Homo sapiens: one gene and its partner. The protein of the gene in region 1 interacts with the protein of each later gene in a biochemical or structural test. Each region holds a gene or a part of one and is shown on either strand. Other genes may lie near its edges.

Region 1 (3,500 bases):
CTGAGGGGCTGTCCCCAGGATGGCTGGGTGGGACCTTCATCCCTCCGAGGCTGAGAGGAGAAGAGCCCCGAGCTGCCAGGAGGGCCAGACTCACGCATGGTGTCCTGGGAGCCGTGTCACCCCAGGCACGAGCCCCACCTCCCATAGGGCTGCAACCCCCTTGCTGCTGTGTGTCCATCTCCCTACAAAGGGCCTGGACCAGGCAGGCTGCAGACACCATGGAGTCCCTGGAGGCAGCGTGGTCCCCACACCCCCGTGGGCCAGGACTAGGCAGCCTCACCGTCACTCTCCCAGCAGAAGGGGCCCTCGACTCCTGGCTCCCTCAGAGCATAGCAGCCCTGCCTCCCTCCCAGAAAGGGAGCCAAAGGCCAGAGCAGAGGGGAGTGGAAGCCAGATCACCATCAGTATCATTTTTATTGCAAATCAGTTAACAAAAAAGATGAAAAAAATACATCATCTACAGTTCCTCATGTAGATCACTTTTAAAGTCTTTTTCTGTAAACTACACTCTATTTTATAAAACACAGTAAAAATCAACATCTTGGGACGCATCTGGTCATGCCCCCTGGGGATGGCACCACGCGGCCCCCGTAGAGCCGGGGGAGGCTGCCCTGAGGAGTGCAGGCGGCACGGCAGCGGAGCGTCCCCAGTGCATGGGCGGCTAAGGCTCCCCGAGCTGAGCCAAGTCTGACGTCCCTCACTGGCATGACACACAACAGACTCATTCATTAAGATTTTTTAAACAAAATCCACCTTTAAAAACATATTTACAGACATTTTTTCTGCCATAGGCTATACTTGGTATTGCAAAAATCTGCTCCTCCCAAACTAGGAGGGGTGGCCCAAGGGCAGCCCCCGCCTCCCTCCAGCCCCTGCCCGACCGCATGCCCCCTGCCAGGGCTGCGGGGACAGGACCAAAGGACGCAGCCCACGGCGTTGCACAGCTCAATGTGCCCGGCTCTGGCAAGTCTCCTACAAAACACGGGAGCCCACGGGGGGTCGGGTCCCGCGAGCTGGGGCCCAGGCTGTGTTGCTGGAGCATCTTCTTCGGAACCTGGGGGACACTGTGCAGGCTGAGGTGCTGGGGCCGCCACCGGGGTCAGCCCAGGCAGTGTCTTTCCCCAGAAAAGGGTAGGATGCCTCCGTGTGTGACCCAGGCAAGTGCCACAGTCCACACATCTCATGTTTGACATGCATGATGCCTACATTTCAAGAACGGGCAGGGGGCCGGGGTGGTTCTGGAGGGACCAAGAACTTGTATAACCAACGAACAACTACATAATACTGAACCTGAAACAAAGATTCATGATTGGTACCATGGGTGCACTCTTGGCATACACACTCCGAGAACACATTTTCACAAGCATGCTTGCAAGAAACCATCTAAAACACATGGCAACATCTAACCCATATGCTTTCACTTGTTTCCTATTTCAGATGCAAATTAATCCGCGTGCGGAAGGTGAGCCAGCTTTGCCTCCGTTTGCCTCTGGATGCAGCTTCTCCTAACAGGCAGGTGATGCTGGTGGAGCGGCCGGGCTGGCTTGGGGTTGGGTGGGCGTCGGGGAAAGGGCGCGGCCTGGACGCCCCAGGAGCTTTTTGGACTATGCTCGTTCAACTTCCCTTCTCCAACATCATTTCTTTTTGGATTTTGAAAAAAGGAATCAATAAATAAATGGCATTTATAAATCATGAATCTTTGTTTATATTTTATAAACACAGAAGAATCTTTTCATCCTACGTAGGAAAACCCTGGCTCTCAGAACTTGCTTGTTTTCTCAGAATAGATAAAAGTTTCTACCTGGGGCCAGATAAAACAGTACATATAAATAAAAAGGCAGTGTTTCTGTGTAAAATAAAAGTACATAAATAAATACTAAAAAAAATTAAAATCCTCGTTCTTATTTTGTATAAAAACATGTGTTTTAAAAAGGCTCCTCTGGTCGGCCCTGGCATCCACAGAGCGCACACAGACGCCCGAAGGCTTGGGAAAGGAAGCCGGGGTCTCGTGGGGCGCGCCGTTTACTTGAAGGCCTCCGGAATGCGGGCGATCTGGGACTGCATGCTGGTGGGAGGGCTGGAGACGCCCTCGGACCAGTCGGAGACGTTGGAATGCGGGGACGAGCTGGACCACTGGTCAGGGGACTCAGGGGACGGGGTGAGGAAGGGGTGCTCAGGCACCTGTAGCTGGTGGCTGGGGGTGTTGTCCACAGGCGAGGAGTAGCTGTGCTGCGAGGGGGGCGTCAGGAACTGGGCTGCGGTCACGGGTGGGACCAGCGAGGATGGCAGCGACGTGGGCAGGGCGGGGCTCTCCTGGGGCAGAATAGTGTGCACCGCCAGGCTGCTGGGGCCCAGTGGCTGCACGTCTGCCTGGCTCGGCTCTCCACTCAGGAAGCTCCGGCCCAGGTGGCCGCTGGCTGCTGAGCTCACGCCAAGGTGCGGCTGTGGTGGTGGTGGTGGCGGCTGCAGGCTTTGCTGCTGCTGGATGTTTGCTGGCTGCAGGTTCTGCTGCTGCATCTGTAAGTTTTGTGGCTGCACCTGCTGGGTCTGCACCAGGTGAGGCTGGGTGGCCAGCCGGGTGCTGGGCAGGCCCTGGTAGCTCATCATCTGGGACAGGGCGCTGGCAGCAAGGCTACTGTGCAGCGGGCCTACCATGCCATGCTGCAGGGAGGGGGCCTGTGTGCTCAGGGGGCCTGGTGCCACACTCCCCCGCAGAGGGTTGTATTGGTTCGGCACCATGCCGCTCTGCAGCCGGGACAGCCACTCGCATTGACCATTCAAACTGGTGGACCCGCCCACAGTGAAATTCAGGGCCCCTCCGCTGCTGGAGCCCAGGACGGTGCTGGTGCCAGAGGCCACAGGCAGGTGGGAGAGACGAGGTGGGCCAGTCTCAAAGGCCAGCCGGCCGCCCCCACCCAGCGCCGCCATCTCGGGCTTGGCCGCCACGTTCAGGTGCCCGATGCCCAGGTGGGTGTCGGGCATCCCAGGCAGGTGGTTGAGGGGCACGGACGGAGACTGCTGGAACGGGGAGGGCAGCAGTGGCGGCGAGGCCACGTCTGACAGGTAGCCATGGGGTGACTCCAGGGAGTCCACGGGCGAGAGCATGCCGGAGCTGTCCAGCAGGCAGCCCTTGCCGTCCTGGGACTTCTTCCTCCGTGCCTTGAGGTCCTTGGCCTCCTTGCTTCCACAGGCCAGGCCTTTGCTGCTGGGCTTGCGGACCTTCTTGCCCTGCACGCCGGGCTTGAGGCTGCCCAGGTAGCCGTTGGGCGAGCAGAGCGGGGGCGACAGGGTGGGCGTGCCCCCCAGCGGGGCTCCGTGCAGCTGCGGGCTGCGCACCAGGTTGTACTCGTCCAGCAGCCTCACGATGTCGTGATGCATGCGCTCCTGTGCGATGTCGCGCGGCAGGCGGTCCATATGATCCGTGATGTCCCGGTTGGCAAAGTGGTCCAGCAGCACCTTGGCGGTCTCGTAGCTGCCCTCCCGGGCGGCCAGAAACAGGG
Region 2 (3,500 bases), on another chromosome or scaffold:
TGAGGCCCCTGAAAGGCAAAACCCAGGCAAAGTGAGTGAGCGGGGACCGGGATCGGCCCCCACTACCCTGCACCACCACCAGTGGGCATGGCCGGTTCTCACCAGACAAAGTCTTTGCACACAGAACAGAAGGTGGGTTGCCCAAAGAAGGTGGCGATAAACTCATGGTTCTTGATGTAGTGGATTTTGGCCTGTTTGATGGCTCCGCGGCGGTTCATCGTTGGGAACTTGGCCTCGTCCTCACTGCGCATAGACTGTTTGCAATCTGGTGACCATGGAGTAGGGAAGTCAGCCCTGGTATCTGGAAGGGGTGGCACCCCTACAGTCCCTCCCAGGGTGGTCCTGGACAGCTCTGCCGAAGGGAGCAGCTTCCCTACACCTCAGTGCTGGCTCTGCCTCTGAACCCGGCAAGGGAGCCCTCCACCCCCAGGGAGTTCTTACCCACGTCCTCCAGGAAATACTGAACAGACATCAACACCTTGGCCTGAGGCTGCAGGTCCAGCTGTTGGGGGCCAGAGGCCAGGGGAGAACAAGGTCAGTGAGGGCAGCCTGGGCCAGGCCAAACTCAGAACCCACCCCCATGGCTGGTCCCCCAAGGCCAAGGCAGCCCCCCAAGGCCTAGCCAGACACTTGTCTGCCCAGTGTGGGCAGGGCCCCGCCTGAGCCCCACTCCTGAGCCCCACCCCCACCCTGTACCCAGGGGTATTATTACATTTAGGGAAGTGAAAGGGTCCAGCCCACACCCAGCCCAGACACATAGCTGGGGAATAGAGCGGGAAGGGAAATTCCCCACCCCTACCCGCTGCAGCTCCCTTAGCAAGGATCTTAGAATGGAGGCCCCTACCCGTGTGCACATGCGGAGAGAGACAGACACACAGACACACTCATCCTCGTGCACACACGCTGCTCCTCCCTCTGTGCCGAGGGCTCCTCATGCAGATTGGACAGTCTCGAGGGTGGGACCTGAGCCTCTATCCCCTCACCTCCCCCAAGACCTAGACCTGGTGACTGATATCCTCCCTTGGGGGAGCGGAGACAGCACAGCCAGAGGCCCCTCTGTGTCCCTGCCTGACTGGCCAAGGGTCAGTACAGCCCTGTGTTAACCTCTCTCCCATCCCAGCCCCCTCACCCCTCGCAGGAGGCTGATCAGAGCCTCCAATGGTCACAGGGCCTTTCCTGGTGGAGACATCTTGGTTACATCCCACATGTAACCCCAGGGGACTTCTGCCAGCACTGGCATCCTGTGGCCACCCAGAACACACAGCTGCACATGGCCAAGTGGCCACATGCTTGTGCAGAGTCTCCATTTCAGCAGGTAAGTAGATGAGACCGTCAGCCTCCCCTTCTCCCACCTCCTTGCTGTTAAAGATCACTATGTTGCCCCCTCAATGGCTGCCAAGGCCTAGAATATATGCGAAGATTCCAAAAAGAACTGGGATAATGGGTGCCTCTGGGAAGGAGGCCTGGTGGCCTGGTGTTGGGGCAGGGACACACCCTTTCATGCAGTTAAAAATGTTTTACTATGTGCATATCCTGCCTTTCCAAAATTAAAAAGGAAAAAGTAGTCACAATAAGGAAGTTGGCCGTCTTTAGCACCTGCTATGTGTCAGGTTCTGCAATAAGCCCTGTACATCCAGCTGCTCCTTTCATTTGAACAACTGACCCTGAGGTAGGCACATTTAGTAGCGCCTTCCCTTAACAGATGCGGAAGCAGAAGCTCAGAGAGGCTGGGAATCTGGTGAATTGCAGAGCCAGGATTCACACCCAGGACATGTTGGCCACAGGGCTGGACTGGTGGCCAGCACAGGGCCCGGTGCTCTTCAGCTGTGCTCACTGACCAAGCCCGCGTGTGTGCACGCACACACATGCACGCATGCACACACACACAGACACACACACACACACACACGGCACGGCTCGTGCGCCCCTTACCCAGAACTCAGCCTTGCCATTGTTCTTCTTGCAGCGCTCGGCCAGCACCGACACACCCACGGTCACCTCAGACACTGGCTCCTCTGCTGCCCGCATTAGCACAATCTGGATGACGCGCCCCTCATAGATGTGGGCATCGAACGTCGACTTCCACTCAGGATACATGGTCGGCTTCTTCTGCACCAGTGTTTTCCCACGCTCTGCAACAAGGCCAGGCAGAGAAGGTTGGGCCATGGCCCCTCTGTCCCTCCCTCGTAGACCTCCACGGCCTTCCCCTGGCAGAATCTGCCCGACTCTCCTGCCTTGAGGGCCTGCTGTGGTTCCCCAGTGTCCTCTAGAGCACAGAACTACCTTGGGCACCCTGCTAGGTCCTCCCTCCAGGCCTTTGTTCCTGCTGTTCCCTCTTCCTCTGATCCTCTTGCTCCAGCTCCATTTAAATGTCGCCTGCCCTTATGCATTCATGCAGGGAACATGGGCTGACAGCTCCTGCATGCCAGCCATAATATTCGAGGCGCAGAACACAGCTGAAAGAAAAGCTACATCCAGGGCCTGTCCTCCTGGATCCCCAGGCCCGGGTGGCGAATGCACCAACTCCTTCCTCAAGTAACTGTTAAGTCACAGTTGTGATGAGACTGAAGAGGGCAAGGCTGGTAGTGCTACAGGGTCAAGCCTAAGGGTCAGGGAAGATTTCCTAGAGGAAGGAACAGTTCAGCCGAGACCTGAGGGACAAATAGGGGTTCACCAGGCCAGGGCAAAAGCAAGAGGGAATGATGTGAGGTATGTGCTTCCTCCAGGAAGTCCTCCCTGACCTCAGGTTCAGAGGGTGCCTTCTCTGGGCTTCCCTATTGCAGGACTCACTGCTTTTTGACGTGCCTGGTTTCCCCACCTGACTATGAACCCCATGAGGGCAGGGCCAGGTTAGTCCTGGAGCATGACAGTATCCTCAGTGCCCCGCACAGGCCCTGGCACAAATGGACATGTAAAAATTGCTGGGTAAAACAACCAGGGAGGAGGAACCAGAAACTCCAAGCCTTCCAAGGAGGGCTCAATTTGGCCAGTGTTTGCAGCCCTATAGCGACTCAGTGGCCTCTGCCTTCATAGCTGAGTGGGGCAGGGAGTCAAGGATGAGGAAGAGCAGAATCCTTCAGAGGTTGCAGGGAACAAGGCCAGGCCCCCTCCAGTCCTTCCAGCTGGGCCCAGATTCCCAGCCCCTCTCCAGGGTCCAGCCTCCAGGCCTACCTGTGCTGAGCGCCTCCTTCATCTTCACGGCACAGAAGGGCTGGTTCGCCTCGTCCTCGGCCTGCAGGGAGCCCAGCTCATAGGAGTTGAAGGCGATGCGCAGGAACGGCGCCATGGTGGGGCCTGCAGTGGGGCTGTGCACACAGAGGGGTGAGGCCAGGCGGCCGGGCGGGACCAGCGGGAACAGTCACGGGCAGCACTCAGGGACCCGCTCCCCCAGGGCTCTGCTATGATTGGGTTTGGCCCACATGATGCACACACACACTAGTCTCAGTTGCCAGTGTTAAAAACTGAGAGGTTTGCCAGGCGCAGTGGCTGACGCCTGTAAT

Evidence for each region. Proteins that work in one complex are often made in the same cells at the same time.
Region 2: of the proteins of NOTCH1 (region 1) and PRKCD, one has a biochemical effect on the other in vitro, tested with the Homo sapiens proteins (one study listed by BioGRID).

The regions. Positions count from the first base shown.
Region 1 is NC_000009.12:136,494,049-136,497,548, forward strand, and holds the end of NOTCH1 (neurogenic locus notch homolog protein 1 preproprotein), read right to left. Parts: coding exon 2,023-3,500; 3' UTR 385-2,022; downstream 1-384. UniProt on the Homo sapiens protein: Functions as a receptor for membrane-bound ligands Jagged-1 (JAG1), Jagged-2 (JAG2) and Delta-1 (DLL1) to regulate cell-fate determination.
Region 2 is NC_000003.12:53,178,209-53,181,708, reverse strand, and holds part of PRKCD (protein kinase C delta type), read right to left. Parts: intron 3,306-3,500; coding exon of another isoform or gene 3,287-3,305; coding exon 3,172-3,286; intron 2,133-3,171; coding exon 1,933-2,132; intron 503-1,932; coding exon 442-502; intron 266-441; coding exon 103-265; intron 9-102; coding exon 1-8.